Homo sapiens: one gene and its partners. The protein of the gene in region 3 purifies or fractionates together with the protein of the main gene of each other region. This does not show direct contact. Each region holds a gene or a part of one and is shown on either strand. Other genes may lie near its edges.

The links.
Region 1: the proteins of XPR1 (region 3) and UTRN purify together in Homo sapiens (affinity purification with mass spectrometry; 2 studies listed by BioGRID and IntAct, with this or other methods). This does not show direct contact.
Region 2: the proteins of XPR1 (region 3) and MYORG purify together in Homo sapiens (affinity purification with mass spectrometry; 2 studies listed by BioGRID and IntAct, with this or other methods). This does not show direct contact.

Annotation. Positions count from the first base shown.
Region 1 is NC_000006.12:144,847,335-144,854,504, forward strand, and holds the end of UTRN (utrophin), read left to right. Parts: intron 1-3,654; coding exon 3,655-3,663; 3' UTR 3,664-5,700; downstream 5,701-7,170.
Region 2 is NC_000009.12:34,366,899-34,375,868, forward strand, and holds part of MYORG (myogenesis-regulating glycosidase), read right to left. Parts: intron 6,109-8,970; 5' UTR 6,046-6,108; coding exon 3,901-6,045; 3' UTR 1-3,900.
Region 3 is NC_000001.11:180,822,737-180,831,706, reverse strand, and holds part of XPR1 (solute carrier family 53 member 1), read right to left. Parts: intron 6,955-8,970; coding exon 6,764-6,954; intron 6,543-6,763; coding exon 6,363-6,542; intron 1-6,362. UniProt on the Homo sapiens protein: Inorganic ion transporter that mediates phosphate ion export across plasma membrane.

The DNA of each region.
Region 1 (7,170 bases), on a different chromosome or scaffold from region 3:
TGAGGACACACCTGGGAAAAAGAGAGATAAATTTCATTAGGATTTGTAGCCTGTTTTGTTTTGTTTTTTTGTTTTGTTTTGTTTTTTGTTTTTGTTTTTTCCCAAAAAGGATTTTGAGGGCTTCACAGAAACGAAAGAGCAGGCAGGAGGGGGTGGAGGAACAGTCAATTATGCATTTGTCTTATGCTCAGTAAATCTGCGTTTTATATAATTAAGATAAGGTATGCCTAGAGTAGAAGAAGCAGTCAAGTACACATTTTTCTCAGGGTGGGAGGAGAGATGACTTCTAGTCCTGCCTTTGTCCTGTAAAGATAAGCTGTTAATTCACATTGTCAGGGTGAAATTCAACAAAACTCTGTTTTAGGGTAAAGATTTGGGGACCCTTAGAAATTTCCTTGTGAGCAATTTGTGAGGGAGGTCACTGGCCTTCTATCTTTGCAAGTAGCTGCTTAGGAAGGTAGTTTTTGTGTGACTCAGTTCCCACTTTTAATTTTTCCCTTTAGCATAGTGAGTTAGGGATCCTGAGATTTTGTTTTCCATTCACATTTTCTTATCACATACTTTTAGTAATAATGTGCCACAAAGCCACAGCAGCTTTGGAGAACATTTTCTTTCATGAACTTGTTTACTAATCTTTTTGAAACAATGAGCCTTCTGAATGATTGTCTTATTGGCAAGAGAGGCTGGGATCTTAACTAAAAGACAAGGGTATGTGAAGTAGGCTAGGGGTGTGGTGAGCTGTGGGTGTTCTCTCCTGCTTGCTTCTGTTGTCTAAGTGAATTGGAAGCCGGGACTTTAGCAGGGAGTGAGGTTGGGGAGGAGGTGTCAGAAGTGCGAGGAGAGACTGGAGGATGTGTGATAGCTTCTTGGAGAATAGAAGAGCAGATGGCCTGGGAAATAGAGTGTGACTATAAGCAGCATTAAAGGTGCCACTCATGAATTTAACATGAGGCCATTCTGCAGGGTTGTAAGTTGCCCTCTAGGCATATTCACGTTCATGAGCACAGGCACCAGAATGGGCTGAGTATTGGCATTTAAAAAGTTGAAGTTGGGGTTTGACAAAGTGAGTACAGTGATTCAAGGGAAGAGGCAAAGAAGTGATTATAATGATTGAACCAGATGCTTAAGCTCAGTAGTGAAAGGAATGAGGAAATGTCCAGTGTGGGAGACAGAAATAAAGATGGGAGGATCAATGGATCCTATTGTCAAAGGATGGATAAATTTGCAGTTGTAGGGGAAGTAAGCTGTGGAGGTAGAGGTGGTTGTCAGAAGCTAGGTTGAATGATACTGAAATTAGAGGGGTTGCAAGTATTGGTAATGGTCCATATTTGGACCTTTGTGTGAATGGCTAAGAAGGTTGGAGGACAGGACCATTGGAGGAAAAGAGCCTAAAGAACCAAGAAGCCAGAGTGCTGGAAGAATCATCTCCATGGGTGTTGAAATCACTAACATTTAAAAATGGCTTTAGAGTAGGGGACTTTGAGCCATTTTTTACTTCAAGAAGTGAAGGAACATGACCTACGGAGTCAGTAGATGACTGCATAATGGAGTCATATAGTCTGATGATATGAGATTCAAAGCTGGGTGTTTTTAGGGAGAGGAGAAAGAAGATACCCCAGAGGCCCCAATGAGGACCAAGGAAGACTCATGCAGTGTATGAGGAATGGGGGAGAATGGGGAGGGGAAGTGCTGTGTGAGAGGGTTATGAGGGAAGCTGTGTCTTCAGGTAGATGCAGATATTGATTAGAGCAAGTAGATGCAGGCAGCATTCAGAGAAGGGTTTGGGAACATGGGTTTTGCGGATCACAGGCCACATGACCTATAGGACAGGTTTCAAGAGCTAGGAAGAGTGAGGCATAGGGTCACAAAAAGGGGTATGCAGATCTCTATATGACTAGAATACAGGTGATGGAAGGGCAACCAGGAGTCTAGAGCTTTTTAGGGTGGCCCATTAAAATTAGGGATAAAGGGTACAAAGAGGTTAGTCCTGATGGTCCCCAGGTGGAATGAGGCTGTGAGTGACAAAGGCAAGGAGGGAAGAGAGAATCTTTTAAAATCCTCAGATATAATACAAGTGCTCAGAATTTAAAGCAGAAAATTATCTGAGGAGGCCTTCTCCTCCTACTCTGTTTCTAGATTTTAGAAATTGAGTTTACAAAGAGCTAAATGGTTCCCAGTTGTACAGCAACTTAGTGGATGGAGCAAACATGTAACTCAATACAAGAGGCCCCTTTCCCATTTTCTTCCTTCCCTTTCCATGTGTTTTTTCCTGCTCTTCTCTTTTCTTCATTTTTTCATGTCTTGGGTCGAATGGAAATTCATGAAAAGTATATATTTTCACCTGGAGGGTTGGGCTAATATTTACATAGCATGATCTTAAATTTTTAGAATTCTGACACCTAAAATGAGCAGTATTGTGTGTCCAATTAATAGACACATCTCATTCTCAAGGATAATGGAGTATATAGGCACAATTCAAAAATCCTCTTGGCTTTATATTTAACATGAATCAGCGCCAGAGTTTCAGTTATCAATATTAATATGTAACAAAATGTTCCTTTCTCATATGGGGTTAATCTCTCCCCTTCTCTGTCCTCAAACCACTTCTTTGAATTTACTGTGGCCGGCACTTACCTCATATTACAATTGAATGAGGCTGCCTGGCTGAGATATCTTCCACACCTGCTTCACAGGAGGGCCTCCCCTCAGTACAATGCCTGGAACCCATCAGTGTTTGCTGAATTTTTGCTCCCTCTAACATGGCAATCAAATGTTCAAAATGGAGAAGCAAGTGTCTGAAGAATCCAAATTTGAATAGTCATGGAGAATGGGCTCTAGGCCAGAGTCAAATGAGTTTGCTGCTTTCAGCATACCTGGGAAAAGGAGGGGCTCCGTGGGCAGTTTTTCCAGTGGCTTCATTAGGAACATGCTTCCAGGGAGCAGGATAAAGTCCCCCATAAAATAAGGTGTAAAGACAGATGGAATATCTTTCCTGAGGGTCCAGAAAGGCCTTTTATGATTTATGAGGCATGGACCAGTTTGGATGATTTCATTTTAGCACTTTTTTTTTATTTTTTTCTAATTTCAAAATCCTTTTAGAAGACCAAATGTTTGACCTTCCCTTCAAAAGGTTGATACCACTTCCATGAGTGTGGCCTGGATTTATATTGTCTCTGACCTGGGACATTTAACTTTAACTGGCACCACTAAACACCCTTGGGTTATGATTCCTGCCTTGCCTTCCTCTTCTCTGGACTCCAGCTTGGGATCAAGATGGTTGGCATTGTTAGGGTACCCCCTCTACAGATGACCTCCCACAGTCCCCCAGGAAGACATGGGATATTTTCACCAGCCTCATTCGCTCACCATTGGTACCTTCAGCAGAAAGAAATGAAGTCCTCTCCATTTTAACTTTGCTTCCAGCCTGGCCAAGAGAAAAGACTTTCAGACTTCCCTCTAAATCAGCTGCAGTGATAGAAAGCAGACTAGGTAACTTCAGCATGAGAGGGAGGGACCTCATTGCAGGAAGCAAAAGTCACAGTAGAGTTAAGACTCTTGAAAGAAGCACTTTTATTTTCTTGAAGAATTGACAGATCTCTGCTTCCTGTAATGTTTTGTGCAAATTTCTGACAGTGCTATTTTCCCTTCCCATAGGCAATGTGAAGTATTCATCCGGCCAACCAATGTTTCCTGACGTACAGTGTTGCCCTTTTCAGCAAATGCCAATTCCAAGTTCCATTAAATCAGAAGCTCCATGGCTCCTTGGCCCACGATGTTGAGTGCTGACTGTGTGTTCTACTGAAAGAGTAAAACACTGACTATCCAAAGAGAAATGGATATTTTGTTTTTATAATAACCATATATTATTGTTTTCTTCTTCCCTTTCTATGCAAGTGTAAATTAATGAACAGAGAGGTATTTGGAAATGGTAATACATTTGTCACGGATTTGTATAATGTATACAGCATTGGGAAAGTGGGTGGGGGCTTTCTAATATGATACCGTCTTTTTAATAACTATGACAAAGCTTACATAAGAATTAGAAGACCACTTTACATTTTTACATTCCTTCTGCTGTTCATATTAACCTTGCACAATTACTTCATTTTTTCTTTGACTCTTTTACCACAATGTTTTGGTTATTTATAATTTATCAGCCATATGTTTATCAGCCATATAACCAACTAGATCCCAAATAGATCCATGTATTTGTTTCCGTGATTTGGCCACATTAATAAATTCATAAATTTCAATCAAATATCTTATATATACACACATATGGTTTAAGCTACAGCCCTGTGTATGCCGTTTAACTTTATTTGACGTTGCCCACTTACTTCTTTGCTGACCACTTGGATAACCGTAATAAAAATCCTATAAGCCTAAATGGCATTTCTTTTGGGATATTTTTCCTGCATTTTATTCCCTTTTTATATAAGTAGGAATTAATTATTTATTTTATGTCTTAATCTATTTGATAAAGAAGACTACATTATAATAATCTCAAAGATCATATTACCAAAGGTTGCCCACTTGAGCATATTTTCATTTTGACACAGAAACAAAATTTAGTACAACCTTTCCTAGTTCCCATGTCTTGATTTTCATCATTACATGCACAGCAGACCTTTACCTATTGTGATACCAGAACACATCATTGTCTTTGGTTCCCTTCAAAGAGAATTTTATTGTTGTTTTGTATTTTCAAGTCCTTAATAGTTCTTGAAACTCCTAGTTGTTTTCTTGTTGAAAGCAGACACACATTTAGTGCACGGCTTATTTTACCTTTCGGGTGAAAGATCAGATGTTTTTATACCCTTCACTTGATCAATATATTTGGAAAGAATGTTTATCAAAAGTCTATGTCACTGCTTCTACAGAAGAATGAAATTAATGCTTAGGTGATGGTACCTCCACCTACATCTTTTTGAGTGCATTCAATTATGTATTTTGGTTTAGCTTCTGATTTAACATTTAATTGATTCAGTTTAAACATGTTACTTAATTAGCAAATGTAGAGGAACCAAAAAAAGGTGAAAATAATATGTTTTGATTCAAACCTAAAGACATAAAAACATAAAGACATTTTAACTTTGGGTTCTCTTTAGCTGGGATCTGGCCAGAAGGAGGCTTAAAGTTAGAAATTGCTATTATTTTAGAATAGGTTGGGTGGGTTGGGGGGCAAGGGTGTCTATTTGCAGCAGAGATATTTTGAAAAGAAGAAAATTGTTTTATATAAAAAGGAAAGCCATGACCACCTTTCTACCTCAGATCCATCTTCATCCATTGCATTGGAAACTGCTTTATGCTGCTGCAGTCTGCAAAGTCTAGAGCTTTTATCAGGCCATGTCATACCCAAGAAAGCACCTATTTAAAGAAAAAACAATTCCCTGAGCTCTCAACTCCAAGTTGTAGATTTGGTGTCTTCCTTGTTCTTACTTTAAAAAGTCATGTGTTAATTTTTTTTCTGCCTGTATTTGTATGCAAAATGTCCTCTATCTGCTATTAAAGAAAAGCTACGTAAAACACTACATTGTAACCTTCTAAGTAATAATAAATAAAAAGAAATATATTGCAGTAACAATGGGAAGTAAGTATGTAGTTCTTTTGAAATATGTGGTAAAGAACTAATCACAGACTATCATCTAATCTGGTTACATATTGTATTTTTCATCCTGAATAAAAGTAATTTTAACACAAGATGACTTTGATATTCTTCAGCTGGATTCACTGATAGAATGTGAGTTTTGAATGCACATTTATGAAAACAAGATATAGAGATAGCCTGTGTCCTGATACATCTACATTTTTTCCTGCAGTTTCTCTCATACACACTAATACAGTCTCCTGTTGCTCTCATTCTCTCTCTCTCCCCATCTCTTACACATACATATAATTATATGATTCTCAATTTATTTTCCAGATAGAAGGTTTATTGATAGAGAAAAGTAATATTGGATGTAAAAATGTGTACATAAAACCTGTTGAGTGTTTTAATAACTAGATGCTGTTGACATTAAGTTCCTTTCAAATGTACTTTTAGTTTCATGCTCTCAAATACTGTATGCTTTTTATCCGTACACTGGATTTTAACCACTCTAGTAGGTTTAATCAATTTCTGAAGCCATTCAGTGGGAAACAATGTTGAGAATCATGTTGCTTTATTCTAAAATTAAAAGCTGTCTATGAACTAGAAAAATCATCTAAAATATAATTTGTTAAAATAAAGAAAACTGATACATTCTGATGAACAAACATTTTAAACATCCTGTGTACCACTAAGTAATGCTGACATTAAGCATTCCTGAAAAAACACTTGATTTCCAGCAACTTGTTGACTAGGTAGCTGAAAATAGAAGTGCGAACAAATGAACAAGTTTTGCTTTCATACTGCTGTGGTTTGAATGTGTCACCCACAGTTCATGTGTTGAAAATTTAATCCCCGATTCCATAGTGTTGAGGGGTTGGACCTTTAAGAAGTGATTGGATCATGAGGTCAGAGGTCATGAATGGATTAATGTCATCACAGAAGTGTGTTTGCTATCTCAAGTGGGTTTATTACCAAAGCACGTTGGGTTCTCTCACTTTCTCTTGCATGTTCTCTGCCCTGTCACCTTCCACCATAGGATGACGCAGCAAGACAGGCCTTACCAGATGCTGGCACCTTGATATTGGACTTCCCAACCTCCAGAACGCTGAGAAATAAATTTCTTTTCTTTGTAAATTACCCAATCTGTGGTATTCTGTTATAGCAACACAAAATAGAATAAAGATGTATACTGTGCCTTCAAGTTGTTATATATCACATATATATATAATATATATGTTACAATCAAGGCACAGTATACTATATATACTGTGAAGGCATAGAGATAGATGATAGATGATAGATATAGATAGATAGATAGATAGATAGATAGATAGATAGATAGATGATAGATAGATGATAGATAGATATAGATAGATGATAGATAGATAGATAGATAGAGATAGACAGACAGATAATCTTTGTAGTTTGCTCCTGTGTATCTTTTCTCCCACCCACATTCACTGTTTCAGTATGCCAGCTTTTTCAAAGGCCTTTCTAAATTCATTAGTGGAGAATTTAATGATAATACAGTAAACCACCACTAACGCTACTACTTAAACCTATGAGTAGGATCCAAAAGC
Region 2 (8,970 bases), on a different chromosome or scaffold from region 3:
TCATCAGGCATTTTCCACACTGAGAAAATAAAGAAGGTAGAGGAGTGGTGTATTAGTCTGTTTTCACACTGCTGATAAAGACATACCCGAGACTGGGTAATTTATGAAGAAAAAGAGGTTTAATGAACTCACAGTTCCATGTGGCTGGGAGGCCTCACAATCATGGTGGAAGGCAAAAGGCACATCTTACATGGCAGCAGACAAGAGAGAATGAGAGCCAAGCAAAAGGGGAAACCCCTTATTAAACCATCAGATCTCGTGAGACTTATTCACTACCACCAGAACAGTATGGGAGAAACTGCCCCTATGATTCAATTATCTCCCACCAGGTCCCTCCCACAATTATGGGAGCTACAATTTAAGGTGATATTTGGATGGGGACACAGCCAAACCATATCATTCTCTCCCTGGCCCCTCCCAAATCTCATGTCCTCTCATTTAAAAATCAATCATGCCTTCCCAACAGTCCCCCAAAGTCTTAACTCATTTCAGCATTAACTCAAAAGTCCATACTCCAAAGTCTCATCTGAAACAAGGCAAGTCCCTTCCACCTATGAGCCTGTAAAATCAAAGGCTAGTTAGTTACTTCCTAGATACAACGGAGGTACAGGCATTGGCTAAATACACCCATTTCAAGTGGGAGAAGTTGGCCAAAACGAAGTGGCTAAAGGCCCCATGCAAGTCTGAAATCCAGCAGGGCAGTTAAATCTTAAAGCTCCAAAATGGTCTCCTTTGACTCCATGTCTCACATCCAGGTCACACTGATGCAGGAGGTGGGTTCCCATGGTCTTGGGCAGCTCCACCCCTATGGCATTGCAGGGTACAGCCTACTTCTCGGTTGCTTTTACAGGCTGGCGTTGAGTGTCTGTGGCTTTTCCAGGTGCATGGTGCAAGCTGTCAGTGGATATACCATTCTGATGTCTGGAGGACGGTGGCCTTCTTCTGACAGCTCTACTAGGCAGTGTCCCAGTGGGGTCTCTGTGTGGGGGCTTCCCCTTCCACATTGCCTTAACAGAGGTTCTCCATGAGGGCCTCACTCCTGTAGCAAACTTCTGCCTGGACATACATGCATTTCCATACATTCTCTGAAATCTAGGCAGAGGTTCCCAAACCTCAGTTCTTGACTTCTGTGCACCTGCAGGCTCAACACTACGTGGAAGATGCCAAGACTTGGGGCTTGCACCCTCTGAAGCCAAGGCCTGAGCTGTATCTTGGCCCCTTTTAGCCATGACTAGAGCAGCTGGGATGCATGGTACCAAGTCCCTGGGCTGCACACAGCAAGGGGACCTTGGGCCTGGCCCACAAAACCATTTTTTCCCTCCTAGGCCTCCAGGCCTGTGATGGGAGGCACTGCTGCAAAGGTCTCTGACATGCCCTGCAGACATTTTCCCCATGTCTTAGTGATTAACATTTGGCTCCTTGTTACTTATGCAAATTTCTGCAGGGGGCTTGAATTTATCCTCAGAAAATGGGTTTTTCTTTTCTATCTCATCATCAGGCTGCAAATTTTCCAAACTTTTATAGTCTGTTTCCCTTTTAAAACTGAATGCTTTTAACAGCACCCAAGTCACCTCATGAATGCTTTGCTGCTTAGAAATTTCTTCTGCCAGATACCCTAAATCATCTCCCTCGAGTTCAAAGTTCCACAAATCTCTAGGGCAGGGGCAAAATGCAGCCAGTCTCTTTGCTAAAATATAGCAAGAGTCACCTTTACTCCAGTACCAAACAAGTTCCTCATCGCTATCTGAGACCAACTCAGCCTGGATTTCATGTCCCAATCATTATCAGCATTTTGGTCAAAGCCATTTAACAAGTCTCTAGGAAGTCCCAAACTTTCCCACATTTTCCTGTCTTCTGATCCCTCCAAACTGTTCCAACCTCTGCCTGTTACCCAGTTCCAAAGTTGCTTCCACATTTTTGGGTATTTACAGCAGCGCCCCACTCTACTGGTACCAATTTACTGTATAGGTTCATTTTCACAGTGCTGATAAAGACATAACCAAGACTGGGTAATTTATAAAGAAAAAGAGGTTTAATGAACTCACAGCTCCACGTGGCTGGGGAGGCCTCACAAGCATGACAGAAAGGCACGTCTTACATGGCGGCAGGCAAGAGAGAATGAGAACTAAGCAAAAGGGGAAACCTCTTATAAAATCATCAGCTCTCATGAGATCTATTCACTATCACCAGAACAGTATGGCGGAAACTGCCCCCATATTTCAATTATCTCCCACTGGGTCCTTCCCACAACACATGGCAATTATGGGAGCTACAATTCAAGATGAGTTTTAGGTGGGGACACAGCCAAACCATATCAGGTGGGGAAACGGATGCATTCTCTAGGGGGTAGGGGACTGGTTTTGCTACCAGAGCTGTTGATGGAAGCTAAAGTTCACCCTGTTTCCCACCGACCCGCTCTGGCATGCCACTTTTCTCCAGACTCAGCTGCAAAGTCAGAAAAAACTCACTCCGGCTGAGGTTGCTCTTCTTAGAAAGAGAAAATGGCTGGCGTGGTGGCTCATGCCTGTAATCCCAACACTTTGGGAGGCCAAGGTGGGTGCATCACTAGGTCAGGAGTTTGAGACTAGCCTGGCCAACATGGTAAACCCCATCTCTACTAAAAAATACAAAAAGCCAGGCATAGTGATGCATGCCTGTAATCTCAGCTACTCAATCGCTTGAACCTAGGAGGAGGGGTTGCAGTGAGCTGATTGTGCCACTGCACTCCAACCTGGGTGACAGAGCAAGACTCCATCTAAGGGGGGGCGGGGGGAAGAGAAAATGGCTGAGATGAAAGACCTTCCCCTGTCTGTTTATTGGTAGTTGTCAGTGTGTGCATGTAGCCTGTGTTCAGAAGCACAGACCACCAGAGTAAGAACATCACTCCCTTCTAGGCCACACCCCAGGCACATGTGCAGGGGGTGAGGCAGCTGAGGAATCTTGAAAGGGCTATTTATTTCCTACGAGAGTCCTGGGGAAACCGCCTGGGAGGAGGCTGGCTCAGCAATCAGAGCCTCAAATTTGCTCCATGCCCCCTTCCTCCAGATCATCCAGCCTCAGAGAGGTTGTGTTCATTTCATAGATCAGGGACCCATGATGCGTGTTTCTCTCTCTCTCTCTCTCTCACACACACACACGCACACTCTTCAGTTAAGGCACGAAGTCTGGCCTGCATGGCCCTGCAAGTCTGTTCCCATCAGGCACATTTGGCCCAGGGCTGAGCCCATGTATGTACACAAATGGGTTAGTGCAGTGTTAGGAGTCTCTTCACAAATTGGGAACATGATGATGGCTCTGTGCTAAGCCCAGTCCTCCTGTTCCCTGGGAGGGGATCTCTTGCCTCCTTGTCAGCCAAACACCTCCCCAGCTGGACTGGGACCAAATCAGCCACAGTTCAGGTGAGTGCTGGGGACTCAGGGCCTGGCTTCTAACACTAAGAAAACACACGTTCTAAGTGTGGTGGGGGCTATTTGGAGACCTTAAATAAGATCAAGTCCCCACCTAAGATGGACAAAGATGGCCACGAAAGCCAGGAGGGGGAGGTTTCTCTTTGTGCTTTTAAACCCCAACCATGTATAACCATGTATAACAGGAAGAGAGCTGACCTTTTTCCTCTAAGCTCTCTGGCTTCCACCCCAGGGAAGAGGTTTCTGCAGATTGGTGTGAGTGTGGGGGTGGAAAGGGCACAGTAAGGATTGTGCGTTGGAGCAGGAGATTGCTTCAGTGCCCCCTCCCTAGGCCCCACCTTCAGCAGCTGGTTCCAGCACATTTAAGTCAGCAGCCACTTAATGGGTGGTATAGAGGTGGGAGGTTCCTGGGAGTACATGGTGCGGGTGTGACGGAGGGTTCAAGGTCTGCATGAAGACTGGGGGCTTTGCGGTTACCGGGCCCTGGGCTGGGTCAGGACGCCCAGGTAAAGTAGGCGATCTCATCCAGGTCGACCGGGTAATCGGTGAGCAGCACCGGCGTCTTGTCGAAAAGCTCACCCTTGTAGCTGCGCCACTTGCCGGCGGGCAAATAGACGTCGCGCTCCTGCTTGCCTGGCTCCAGCACCGGGGCCACAAGCAGCGTGTCCCCAATAAGGAACTGCGAGTCGATACGGTGAGCTGTCTCGTCGCCGGGCGCAATCCACCAAAGGGGGCGCACGATAGGGTCACCCGTGTCGGTGACCTCGCCCGCCAGCTCAAGCAACAGCGGTGCCACAAGCGAGGCCCGCAGGGCGGCGAACTTCTGCGCGATGGCCACCACTTCCGCGTCGTAGCGCCAGGGCGGGATAGAGAACTGCATGGCCGGCATAAAGGCGGCCACTTCCAGCCAGCGAATGTAGAGCTCGCGCTCGGGCACATCGCCGCCGGCTGTCCGCTGGGGCACGGCGTTGCCGCCCACCATATCGGGTAGGATGAATGGGTAGCCCAGCATGCTGACGGTGAGCACCGCGGGGATGAGTGAGCGCAACCCCAGGTCGTAGCCCCACACAGAGTCGCGATCCACCAGGCGGAAGAAGCAGGAGATGTTCTGTGACTGGTAGCCTACGCGCACCTCCGCCAGCGAGAAGAAGGGCAGCGCCATCTCAGTGTAGCGCCGGCTCCAGACGCTGGGGTCCGGCAGCGGCCGGTAGGTGCTGAAGTCCCGCGGCAGGTAGCTGACCTCGCCCGCGTCGAACTTGAAGGAAGCCACGGAGTAGCGAGAGCGCAGCCGCCGCAGGTGTCCCTGGAACCAGTCGCGGGCCTTTGGGTGCGTGAAGTCTAGCACCGCGCCGATGCCGTTCCACCAGCGCACCAGCGCAGGTAACCGGCCCGTGGGTTCGCGCACGAACAGCTCGCGCTCCACGCCCTCGCCGAAGCGCGACGAGTTGTAGTTGACAAAAGGGTGCACCCAGAGCGTGACGCGGAAGCCGGCGTCGCGCAGGCGGCGGAACATGTCGCTGGCGTTGGGGAATTTGACCTCATCGAAGTCGAAGTCGCCATAAGCAGGTGTGTACATGTCGTCGATTTCCAGGTGGCTGCTGTTGAAGTGGTGCAGGCGGATCTGTTGGGCAAAACGCAGCACCTTGTCCTGGTCCACGGCGCGCCCGTACAGCGCCCATGTGGACCAAATGGGGTCTCGGAAGGCCTCGGGTGCTGGCACCCTTGACGGCTTGTTGAAGTAGCGACGCACCATGTACTTGTGGATGGAGGTGACGTCTGAGCCCACGCACACTCGGTAGCTCAGCTCTGGCGCTGCGGCGCGGCCGGCGGGTGGCTTGTAGGGCGTGTCGTGGTAGCGCGCCTGAAGCCGCAGCGAGCGCTCCGTGCTGTTCCAGCCCAGGTGGAAGGGCACTGAGTCATTGACTTTGATGGCGGCCGCGCGCGAAGATAGCCAGTAGCGCTCGAGGATGCCCCCAAACGCGGCGTCGGAGGAGTAGACATCGCTGGTGACGAACGGCTGGGGCTCCTGCTGGCCATCCAGGCGGATGGGCCAGTGTTGCGTCCTCATCTCGGCGCCACCATACCAGTGGGCCGCCGCGTCGCCCAAGAACATGGCGTGCTCCACGGCCCGGCCCGGCGCTGCCTCCTCCCAGCGCACGCGGTAGCACATGACCGTGTCCTTGGGCCGCACAGTCTGGATGAAGAAGTGCAGCGGCAGCCCGTCGGCCGTGAGCGAGCAGCCCAGCAGGGCGCCATCGCGGCTGCAGGAGTCAAGGTCCAGCGCGCCGGAGCGGAAGGCCAGGCGGAAGACCTGCTCTCCCTTCTGATTGCGGATGGAGAAGCCGCCAGCTTTCAGGTCCAGCAGCTCCGCGCGAAGTCGCTCCGCCTTGCGTAGGGAGACGCTGTAGTAGCACCAGGCCACCACCGCGGCCAGCACAAGCAGCAGCCCCAGAACCGCGGAGCCCAGCAGCGGCTTCAGGTCTTTGGAAGGCTTGGGCTTGGCAGGTGAGAAGTTGTCGGGCAGGAAGGTGTACATAGCTGCGGCTGCGATGGCCTCGGGGTTCTGACGGTATGCGTAGCAGCCAGGCCGGCGGCGGCGGGGGTAGGCCTGGCTCTTCTCCTGAGGGTTCTGGAGCATTAGTGGGCTGCTAAGAAAGGAGCGGGCCGTGGGGCCATCTGACTGAGTTCATCTCAACCTGCTCTGAAAGGAGGAGACAGAGATGGAACTGAGCTATCTCATCCCATGATATTTCCATTTGCTGCCGCAAGCTAAGAGGAGGTGTATACTTTGGGAAGATGAATACTGGAACCTGAGGGCTTGAAGAGTGGCAAAGGTGAGACCCTTACCAGGACAATCTGTGCCTAACCCACCCTTTCTCATGGGACCTAATGCTTGCCCAAATTAGGACTCTGTGACTGGGGAGCGGCCCATGTGACTGGGAGATGGCACCCATCCTCATTTTCCTAGTGGAGAAACAAACCCTGAGAGGGTCAGGAAGCTTTCCAGGATCACAGGATAAGCCAGGCCTCCCCAGATCACACATGGGGCCGTTCGGGCTGAAGAGACGGGAAAGGAACTAGAAAAGTCCTGCTCTCCTAGAGGTGTGGATGGTCAGGGTGGGAGAGGGGGTATTGTCCAGCCAGCTCCTTGAGACTTTTTTTTTTGAAATGGAGTCTCTCTCTGTCACCCAGACTGGAGTGCAGTGGCATGATCTCAGCTCACTGCAATCTCTGCCTCTTGGGTTCAAGCGGGTCTCCTGCCTCAACCTCCCGAGTAGCTGGGATTAAAGGCGCACACCACCACACCTAGCTAATTTTTGTATTTTTGGTAGAGACAGGGTTTCACCATGTTGGTCAGGCTGGCTTCGAACTCATGACCTCAAGTGATCCACCTGCCTCAGCCTCCAGAAGTGCTGGCATTACAGGCGTGAGCCACCTCGCCCAGTCCCCCTTGAGACTTTTAACAGGGCGGTAGGCTAGCTTCCCTGTCCCCAGAGGGGGAGAGGAGGGAGGAAGGGAGAACAGCTCAGGGATGTGTTTTTATCCTGAGTCAAAAGCCTGATGAAGTCTGGAGATTGAAGAAGACACCCAAAGCCAGACTTAGTCCCAGGGCCTGGTTTGGAGGGAGGTAGAGTTGGGTTCAGACATTAGGGCCTGGGGCAGGAGCCTGGCATGGGGGGCCAGTTGTTTCTCACATCTGCTTCTCTTTGCCCTCAAACTCACCCTGCTCTCAGCCATCATCCATCACCAAATCCATTTCCATGCCTGCCTTCCTGCTTTGCTCCTGGCACCACATCTGTGGGCCAGCTACTTCCTCGCTCTGTTTCACCCACTGTCCTGTTTCTGTCATAGTTTGGGCACTGTCACTTCTCCCCTGTATTACCAAACGCTTCCCCCAACAGGCCTCTCTGACTCTAACTTCTTTCTCACCAGTGCCTTCTGATCACGGCAACCATAGTGATCTTTCTAAAGCACTTATCAAACCATATCTATCCCTAGCTTCGAGAGCTGCTCATTGCTTCCATGATGAAATTTAAAAGTGTTTGCTTTGCACTGGAGGCTCCAGGCATGATGTGTTCTCAGCTACCATTCTGATTCCATTTCCAGCCAAGCCTATCTTGTGATTACCAAGCTCGTTCCTTCCCCAACCTAAATCCTTTAGGCCACCTGCTTCAGGAGATTTCACCCACCTAGCTTGGCCCAGCGCACCTCCTCCACCTACCTGCTCTCCAGGGATCAGACACCCACCACTACCACTAACACACATAAACTCTGACACACTATATGCTAAATATCCAGATATGAGGCCATGCACGGTGCTCATGCCTGTAATCCTAGCACTTTGGGAGGCCAAGGAGGGCAGATCTCTTGAGCTCAGGAGTTTGAGACCAGCCTGGGCAACATGTTGAAACCCTGTCTCTACCAAAAATACAAAAAAAAAAAAAAATTAGCCAGGCATGGTGGTGTGCACCTGTAGTCCCAGCTACTTGGGGGGCTGAGGTGGGAGGGTCGCTTGAGCCCAGGAGGTCAAGGCTGCAGTGAGCCAAGATTGTGCCACTGCACTCCAGCCTAGGTGACAAAGTGAGACCCTATCTCAAAAAAAAAAAAAAAATACAGATATGACTACAGGGAAACACAGGCTCAGGGGAAGAGGTGTGTCCTACTCTGCCACTCAAGGCCACTGACCGTTCCTGTCCCAGGCTTCAGAGCAGAGTCCAACAAAGAAATAGCACCACCCAGGTGCACACACGGGCATACACACAGCCAGCCAGTTGGTTGCCCAACTGCTCCAGCTCGGGGGAAGAAGAGAAGGAGACTAGCAAACAGTAATTAGCCTCCTCCCAGATGCCAGTGTCTGTCTCTAAGTCCCCAGGGACTTCCAAGGAGATGCCGGAAATACTCAGGTTTTTCACCTCCCCCATGCAAGAATGCAAGGTGTGGAGCAGAATTTGATCCTAAATGTCAATACACAGCTCCTCCCATAGGCACTTCCCACACGGTGCTAGCTCAGGGCCTCATTCTCAGTGCCCTCTGCCCCCAGCTGCCTAAGCTTGTCAGCCCTAGCTGGTCTGGAACAGACTCTTATTCCCTTTCTCTCAGTCTACAATGACTTAGCTTTCCTCCCCATTCCTATATAGATACAGCTTAGAAAACACCTCCTGGAAAATGCAGCCAGTGGCCTTTAGGTGATGCCCTCAAGCTGAGCAGAACCCAAAGAAGGCTTTAGGTGGCTCAGATCACACCTGTGAGTTTATATTCATTCATTCAAGATAACCAAAGCCCTATTCTGGGCACCAAGGAAATAAGGAGAGAGAGGGTCAGTATCTGAAGAGGAGAGAGACTTCCTCATCCTCAAAACTTTCATATGAAGTCAGCCTATCTCATGAGCCCTGGAGGCAGGAAGAGGCCACCAAGGTGGATTCAAAAGCCCTTTCCGACAGTTATGTTTTGAGAATCTTAATTTTCTGGGATCTGAAGTTCTTTGATGAAAGACAGAAGCCCACAGGCCTGGGCACCCACCCACCCCAGGCACCATGATAGTGTCCCAAATGTCACCACAGCA
Region 3 (8,970 bases):
ACATGGATGAAGCTGGAAAGCATCATTCTCAGCAAACTAACACACAAACACAAAACCAAACACCGCATGTTCTCACTCATAAGTGGGAGTTTAGCAAAGAGAACATATGGACATGGGGAGGGGAACATCACACACTGGGGCATGTTGGGGGGTGGGGGGCAGGGGGAGGGATAACATTAGGAGAAATACCTAATGTAGATGATGGGTTGATGGGTGCTGCAAACCACCATGGCACATGTATACCTATGTAACAAACCTGCATGTTCTGCACATGTACCCCAGAACTTAAAGTATATATAAAAAAAAGAAATTCACCCATGTTATCAAAAAAAAAAAAAAAAAAAGAAAAAGAAAAGAAAATAGAAAGCAAAGAGGTGGGAAGAGTTGAATTTGAAAGCACAGAGCAGCAAAAGATAGAAGCACTGAGAGGCTCTAAAGTTAGGAAGTTTTGCTGGAGAGGCAAGTGCTATAATTTCTAGACTGTTCTCCATCTTAGCTAACTGAATACAAAACTCTTCTTTGCTTACAGAGGATAAGTAGGAAAGGATGGTACTCCATCTGAGGCATGCCTCATTATCTAACCAAAGCCACTTTCTTTTCACTAATGACATGGTAATGACTGTGTACATCTTGAAATTATACCACAAAAATCAGCCCTCTTCCCACTGTTCTGAACACATGATAAATGTATTAAATGTATTGGGCAGTAACTCATGCAGTGTATTTTCCTCAAGGCTTTATGCAAGCATTAACTCATCTTCATAACAATTCCATGAGCTAGGAACTATTCATATCCCCATTTTACAGAAGACCGACACAGACTCTTCCTAACATATTCTGTGGAAGCCTGTTTATCACTACAAAGGGAAATCTTGGCATTGCAGAGAAGGGAAGTAGGTACCAATGCAATTACCAGAAATAGGCTCAAATTGTGCAGATTGTCTTGATAAGCGCTGTGTGAAGTGAAGATGGGATGAAGGAAGCCTTAATCCTCATCCTAAAGGACCCCTTTCTATCTTATACAGTAGGAAATGTGACTCCTGAAAGAAGAAATTCTGAGTAAGTAGAAGTTTTGAGAAAATGAATCTAATCTCTAGCTCTGATTATCTAGTTATATTCATTTCATAGACATATTCTACTTGGGAATCTGTAACTCTCTTCTCAGACTTGGCTGGATCTGTCTTCTGTTTCTCTAAATATTTATTTTTATTATGTCAGGGAGATAAATGGTCACATTATGACTCAATCCTGGATGTCAACTACCTATGACGGGTACTTTCTTGGAGCTTTGGAAGCTAGACCAGGTGTCTGTGGGACATCATACAGGCTTTGAGACATTATTTTCTGGTGCTGATATACTTTCATTCCATGGCTCAGTCTCTTAACCACTCTCATAATCTTTCCATGAGTCCAACAAACCAGAGAGACAATCTATACCATTTGCAACCATAAGCGCCCGATAAAGCAAACTTTTTGTGAGGAAGAGGGGGACTGTAGGATGGTAGTCATCTATGCACGAAGAAGCTCTGGCACCAGTTTCTGTAATATTTTAAGAAACTCTAGTGTGCAGAATGGACTTAAAGGATTCAAAGTGACAGAAATATAGAATAATTTAGGATATAACACCAAAAGATCAGGAAGTCTAAATCCATCTCTAATCATGAACTATTATGAAACTGGTAGCCTAGGACAAATTTCTTTATAACTGACATGAGACAGACTATCATTACTCTCATACTCTGCCAACCCCATCCTCAAAACCTGGCTAATTCAGAAAATCTCCATAAGAGCAGAAGAGGGAGATAATGCATTAAATAAGGAAAAAAGGGATGGTGGGATGGGACTGAAAAAGGATAGGACTGACATGAAAATTTAAAAAAAAAACTGGGAAGAAGGGAAAATTTACAAAAAGAGAAAATGAAAAAAGGAAGAAAGAAGGGAGTAGTAAATGTTATATAATACAACCAATGAAGGGAAGAATATAATTACAGTCATTCATGTATTTAACAAAGACTTATCAAGTATTTATTAAATGTCAGGCACTGCGGCTTACAGGCCTTAATGATCCACAGTCTAGTTGGGCAAATAAATACATAAAGGTATAATTATAGCACCATATTATAGAGATACACACAAAATACCCTGGAAATACAGAGAAAAGAAGAAGTCACTCTGTCAGAGGCCGGGTGAGAGGGAGAGCATAAACATCATACTCAACTCACTGACATTTACACACAGTCAAATTCATTCTAGATTTATCTGATATCGCCTTCTGGGAGAGAATTCTGTAACTCACTCCTCCTTCTCTTCTTAATCTGGATAAGGCCTTTCAACTTCTCCACTTCTACCCTGTGATTTTGATTAAAGTGACAATTCCTAGAGTAACAGTATTATGAAAGCCAGAGACAATTCTGGATAGCTGATATTTTACCACCTACACAAAAAAGCCACTAAATTATTACAAAGAACATGTTAACATCCTCTTTTAAGTTAATACTGATAAATAGCTAAGAAGATGAAGTTTTAATTTCTACTTTTCATGGAGTGCAGTGGTACAATTTCAGCTCATTGCAACCTCAACCTGCTGGACTCAAGCGATCCTCCTCCCTCAGCCTCCCAAGTAACTGGGGCTACAGATGCGTGCCACCATGCCCCACTAATTTTTCATTTTTTGTAGAGAAAGGGTTTTGCCACGTTGCCCAGGCTGGTCTCGAACTCCTGGGCTTAAGCGATCCTCCCACCTCCGCCTCTCAAAGTGCTAGGATTACAGGCATGAGCTACTGTGCCTGGCCTCAAATTTGATTTTTATATTCTACTAGTTTGATCCACTAGATCAAAGTTAAACATCTAACATAAGTGACTAATAGGGCTAAGTGTTAAATGTTAGTGTTTAAGAGTACAGATTATAAACGACTGCCTGGGTTCATAACTCATCTTCATCACTTCACTGGCTATGTGACCTTAGGCAAGTTAATTAACTTCTCTGAATGTAGGTTTCTTCATTTATAAAATAGGGATTAATAGCAGCTCCAACTTGTGGGTTATTTTTAAAATTAAAATACATAAAGTAGTTACTAAATGACAACACCTCTCTATTCTTATAATAGAAATGTGTAAAATTTTTACTATAGAACTAAAGAGACTGTTGGTAAAAACTGATGTCTAAATTATGTAACAAAGGACTATAATTTAAAATTTTTAATTAGCTTACTTTTAATATAGTGAGTTAAAATTTATATTTTTGTTTAGAAAATCTGAGGCACTGTTTATGCTACCTAATTAGATTTCTGATTGAGGTAAATATAGATTTAAGGAGAGAAAGTATAACCTAATGGATGTAAATAATCTATACTAATTTGACATACAATATTCATATCAAAATAAATCAATTTCTTATAAATTTTTTTAGCTTTGTTTTTAGGAGCATAGCATATATCAATTCCATAGATTCCAATATAAATATGGATATAAATGGCACCCAGTGCCTACCATTATGACCTATGTGCTTTTCTCACTAAAAATTAAAGAAAAGGATGGGTGTGGTGGCTCACACTTGTAATCCCAGCACTTTGGGAGGCAAGGCAGGCAGATGACTTGAGCCCAGGAATTCGAGACCAGCTGGGCAACATGGCAAAACCCCATCTCTACCAAAAATACAAAAAATTGGCCAGGCACGTTGGCACACACCTGTGGTCCTAACTACTGGAGAGGTTGAGGTGGGAGGATCACTTGAACCTGGGAGGTGGAGGTTGCAGTGAGCTGAGATCACGCCACTGCACTTCAGCCTGGGCAATAGAGCCAGACCCTGTCTCAAAAAAAAAAAAAATTAAAGAAAAAAAGAAAGAAATGTACTTTTACTTTAGGATGAAGCTTTTAAAAAGCGGTATCAGAAAAACATAACTAGAGTGAACACATTCTTGTTAATTCACTAGGAATCAGTCTAAGGGTAAGTTTTCCCAGTGAGATTTAAATTAAAATAAGTCAGCAGGTCAATTAATACTAAAATTATCTACAAATGATAACACTGTTCTGTTTATAACAGTTACTACAAAAACAACAAACCACAAATATAGAAGGAAATTATTCCTTCTATATTTCAGTGTATCTGATAGTACATTTTATTATTCTATTACTGCTTATACCATTGTCAACCTATTCCATCAACAAGTCCTCATTTATTAGCAAAAACACAGCAGATGCACAAATAAATATCTACTCAATGGGCAATCATTCTGCTAATAGGAGTAACTAGTCATGCATGAATCACAGCTTGCTATTTAAACAAAGGATACACTGGGGAAATGCCCACTTAGCACACAATGTACACAACTATATTATCCTGTTACTGTAATTACGTAATCATAGTAAAACCTGAGTTTTCTGAATCTTCCAAAGTCTCATTTAAAAATAATTTTATGGCCAGGCACAGTGGCTCATGCCTGTAATCCCAGCACTTTGGGAGGCCAAGGCGGGAGGAACACTTGAAGCCAGGAGGTTTGAGACAAGCCTGGGCAACAAAGGAGACCCCCTTTTTTTTTTTTTTTTTTTTTTTTGAGAAGGAGTCTCACTCTGTCGTCCAGGCTGGAGTGCAGCAGCACCATCTTGGCTCACTGCAACTTCCACTTCCTGGGTTCAAGCGATTCTCCTGCCTCAGCCTCCTGAGTAGCTGGGATTACAGGCACGTGCCACCTCACTCGGCTAATTTTTATATTTTTGGTAGAGATGGGGTTTTGCCATGTTAGCCAGGCTGGTCTTGAACTCCGGACTTCAGGTGATCCACCCACCTCGGCCTCCCAAAGTGCTGGGACGACAGGCGTGAGCCACTGCACCTGGTTCTACAGTTTTTCTTAATAGAAAGCCATATTTTATGTCTTCAGATTAAAAAAAAATTGTTATGTTTGGCTAAGAACAAAAAAACCTTTGCTAACATAAGGGGCATACAAAAGAAAAACAATAGGAACTGCAGTTTTCAAGGACGTATACTTATAAAGTGAAAAAGAGGTGAGAAAATAGAGCAATTCTGAAAGTTTTTATAGAGATTGGTCAATTTAATCACTAATCTTTATTGTTAGCTGTAATTCATAACCTAAGAAATAATCATATGAAAGTTTTCTCAATTGATTTACTTTCTTTGTTTCTTTCTTTGTTTTTTCCTTTAGAGATAGGGTCTCAGTCTGTTGCCCAGGCTGGGAGTGTAGCGGCACTAACATGGTTCACTGCAGCTTTGACGTTCCTGGCTCAAGCAATCCTCTCACCTGAGCGTCACAAGTATCTGGGACTACAGGTGTGCACCATCACACCCAGCTAATTTTTTAATTTTTGTAAACAGGGTTTACACCATGTTGCCCAGGCTGGTCTGAAACTCCTGGGCTCAAGGGATCCACTCACCTCAGCCTCCCGAATACTGGGATTATAGGCATGAGCGACTGTACCTGGCCTCAAATGATTTTCAAAAAGAGCTGGCTCAATTTACAAGTAAACAGAAGTCCCCTTCCGGAGTTATCTTTACAGAAGAAAGCTTTACAGTTTTGCAGGAAATTTTATTTCACTGCTGAGGCTAAATGATTTTGAGATCATTAAGAGACAGGTAAAGTGGAAGAAAAAAAGAACTTATTATAAACAAGAATCAAAGTCAATTTTTCTTTTTCTTTTTTTTGAGATGGAGTTTTGCTCTTGTTGCCCAGGCTGGAATGCAATGGCACAATCGCGGCTCACTGCAACTTCCACCTCTGGGGTTCTAGCGATTCTCCTGCCTCAGCCTCCCTAGTAGCTAGGATTACAGGCATGGGCCACCACCCCCAGCTAATTTTGTATTTTTAGTAGAGACGGGGTTTCACCATGTTGGTCAGGCTGGTCTCAAACTCCTGACCTCAGATGATCCACCCGCCTTGGCTTCCTAAAGTGCTAGGATTACAGGCGTGAGCCACCGCGCCCAGCCCAAAGTCAATTTTTCAAATTAAACTTGATAATCTGGTAAGATATTCCTACTGCTTTTAGAGAACAAATCTTTCCTAAAATAAAATGTTCGGTTGATACTCACATCAACTTAACAGGAAAATAATTCTTTTACCACATTTTTTTGGGGGAAGGAAACTTACAAAGTTCTACATCTTATCACAGCTAGTTAAACGAAGTAAAAAATGTTTATAATTTACAAAATCATCTCAATATTTGGCCACCTGATACTCGATCTCAGGAGGAAAATATACGTGAGTACTTTTTCCCAGGGCCTCCACTCACATAAACTATAATGTGAACCACGGCCTCTGCAGTTGTACAACCTAGCAGCCTTGGTTTTATCTTAGAGGAAGTCAATAACCAATATGCCACTCTAAAAGTGGTACACAAGTTTCTGGACTTACCAGCAGTTTAAGCAGCCAAAACCGGGATTTATAGTAGAAAGTTTTGGTGGGGTTGATAAGGAAGAAAACCATAAATCCATAAAGGGCAAGTGGATACACATATGTGGGGATGACACTAATTGGAGCAAAGAAGCATGCCAGAAGGCTCAGGCACCACAATATCCCGAGGAATCCAGCAATCTAGTAAAGGATGGGGAAGACAGAAAGATAGAGAAAAATTGTTATTTTTACTTTTACCATTACTTAAAATATCTTTAATAAAACAAAAGTAAGAAACATGATTAGTTATTAAGCTAATAATCCTCTTCAAGTAGAGGATGGATTTAAGTACCCACTAAACCAGATAGCTATATAGCTAATGCAAACTATATTCATGAGGTGTTATGTCTTGCTTTGATTACCTCAAAGAGATGTTGATGAGACAAATTGCTTCTCGGATTAAGTTCAAAGATGAGTACATGGTTTACTCCAGCCTGTCTCCAACCATACGTGTTGATGCCCAGTAGAAAAAGGAATTCAATCAGAAGAAAGCCACCCCGATAGATTCTTATCAAGGGCCATATACTTCTATCTGTTTCAAGTTTAAATACAGCTGAAAGAATATTAAGATATTGGTCAGTTATAAAATTCATAACTTCCCTTGAATTAATAATCTTTTGTCTTCATTCTCAATGATATAGCCCTGGCATAGAAATTTTTCATAAATAAAACCTAAACCTAGATTATCTATCATCTATCTATCTATCTATCTACCTATTTATTTTTTTGAGACAGTCTCACCCTGTTGCCAGGCTGGAGTGCAATGGCGTGATCTCGGCTCACTGCAACCTCCGACTCCCTGGTTCAAGCGATTCTCCTGCCTCAGTCTCCCGAGTAACTGGGATTACAGGCACGCACCACCACGCCCAGCTAATTGTTGTATTTTTAGTACAGACAGGGTTTCACCATGTTGGCCAGGATTGTCTTCATCTCCTGACCTCGTGATCCACCCACCTTGGCCTCCCAAAGTGTTGGGATTACAGGCATGAACCACCCCGCCTGGCCAAACCTAGATTATTTTAAGAGCCTTAAAAAGTCGCCTGTGGGTTCTTTCTCGTCTTCATTTTACTCTGCAGAATGTCACTAGAATAATTTCCCAAAACTTGACTTTCAGCATGTCATCCCATTGTTCTATTAGTTTTTTAGATTACAAAGAATCATGGTGAAGTGGCTTAGAATCATGTGATCAGTTCTGTCATTTGGGGATCCGGCATGACAAAACCTCTCTTTGGCTTCATTTACTCCATTATTAAACTGGATATAGTAATATCTACCTCACAGAGTTGCCATGAAAATGAGAAGGAACAGTACACATGAAAGTAGTGTGAAAATTTAAATGTCATATAAATGACAACAGTTAATATTTACGGAATGCTTACTATGTGCTAAGCACTGTTCTCAGTATTTTTACATAGAATAATTGGTAATTCATTTAACCATCACAATGGCTCTTTGAGTTAAAAACCATTATCTCCATTTGATTAGGAAACTAGAGCACAGAGAGGTTGTCATTTGCTTAGTTACTGACCTAAGCTAGAATTTGAACCCAGTTTTGCTCCAAAGTTCATACTCTTAAGCACTACATTCTATTGCCCATTATGTCCACACAAATGTTCAATATCATTATTCTATGGCTCGCCAGTAATTATAATGTTCAAATACTTTAGATACCTTAGCCTCACAATTCAAATTCTTCATAATCTAATCACCAACTCACTTTTCCCAAACTTATCTCGCAGCACCCCTAAAATATTAACTCTTGACTCGTGATGAATTTTATTATCCTTTTAATAAGTTTGTTTTTCACATTTACTTATGTTGTTCCCTCTACTTAAAATGGCCTTGTTCTTTCTCTCCACTAATTCAAATTCTACTTACTATTTAAGAGACAGATCCTGGATCCTTACCTGTTCATAAATTCACTGAATCAACATATTTCGTTTTAAGCCCACTGTATGAGAAACACTTCCATTTGGTCTAATGATTTTCCAAATAACTATAAAATTTATTGACAGTACTGCTCATTTGGAATTTAATTACATACAAACTTTTGTTTTTTTTTTTTGAGATGGAGTCTTGCTCTGTCGCTCAGACTGGAGTGCAGTGGTGTCATCTTGGCTCACTGCAACCTCTGCCTCCCGCGTTCAAGCGATTCTCCTGCCTCAGCCTCCTGAGTGGCTGGGATTACAGATGCGTGACGCCACACCCAGCTAATTTTTTGTATTTTTAGTAGAGACGGGGTTTCATCATGTTGGCCAGGCTGGTCTGGAACTCCTGACCTCAGGTGATCTGCCCTCCTCGGCCTCCCAAAGTGCTGGGATTACAGGAGTGAGCCACCATGCCCAGCCTATATACTAATTTATATACTTAAATAACCATTTATTGTTTACCTTTGTATTCTCTGTAGTATATAGAAGATTTAATAATTTTAAAATAACACGGTAGAGAAAGCCTTTGCTTTGGAATCAAGTACTACAGACCAGATTTCAAATCCTAGCGATGCCAAATTATTTATTTTTTTTTAAAGTCTCTGTTTCTTTGTTGATCAATGGGGATAATATCTATTCTC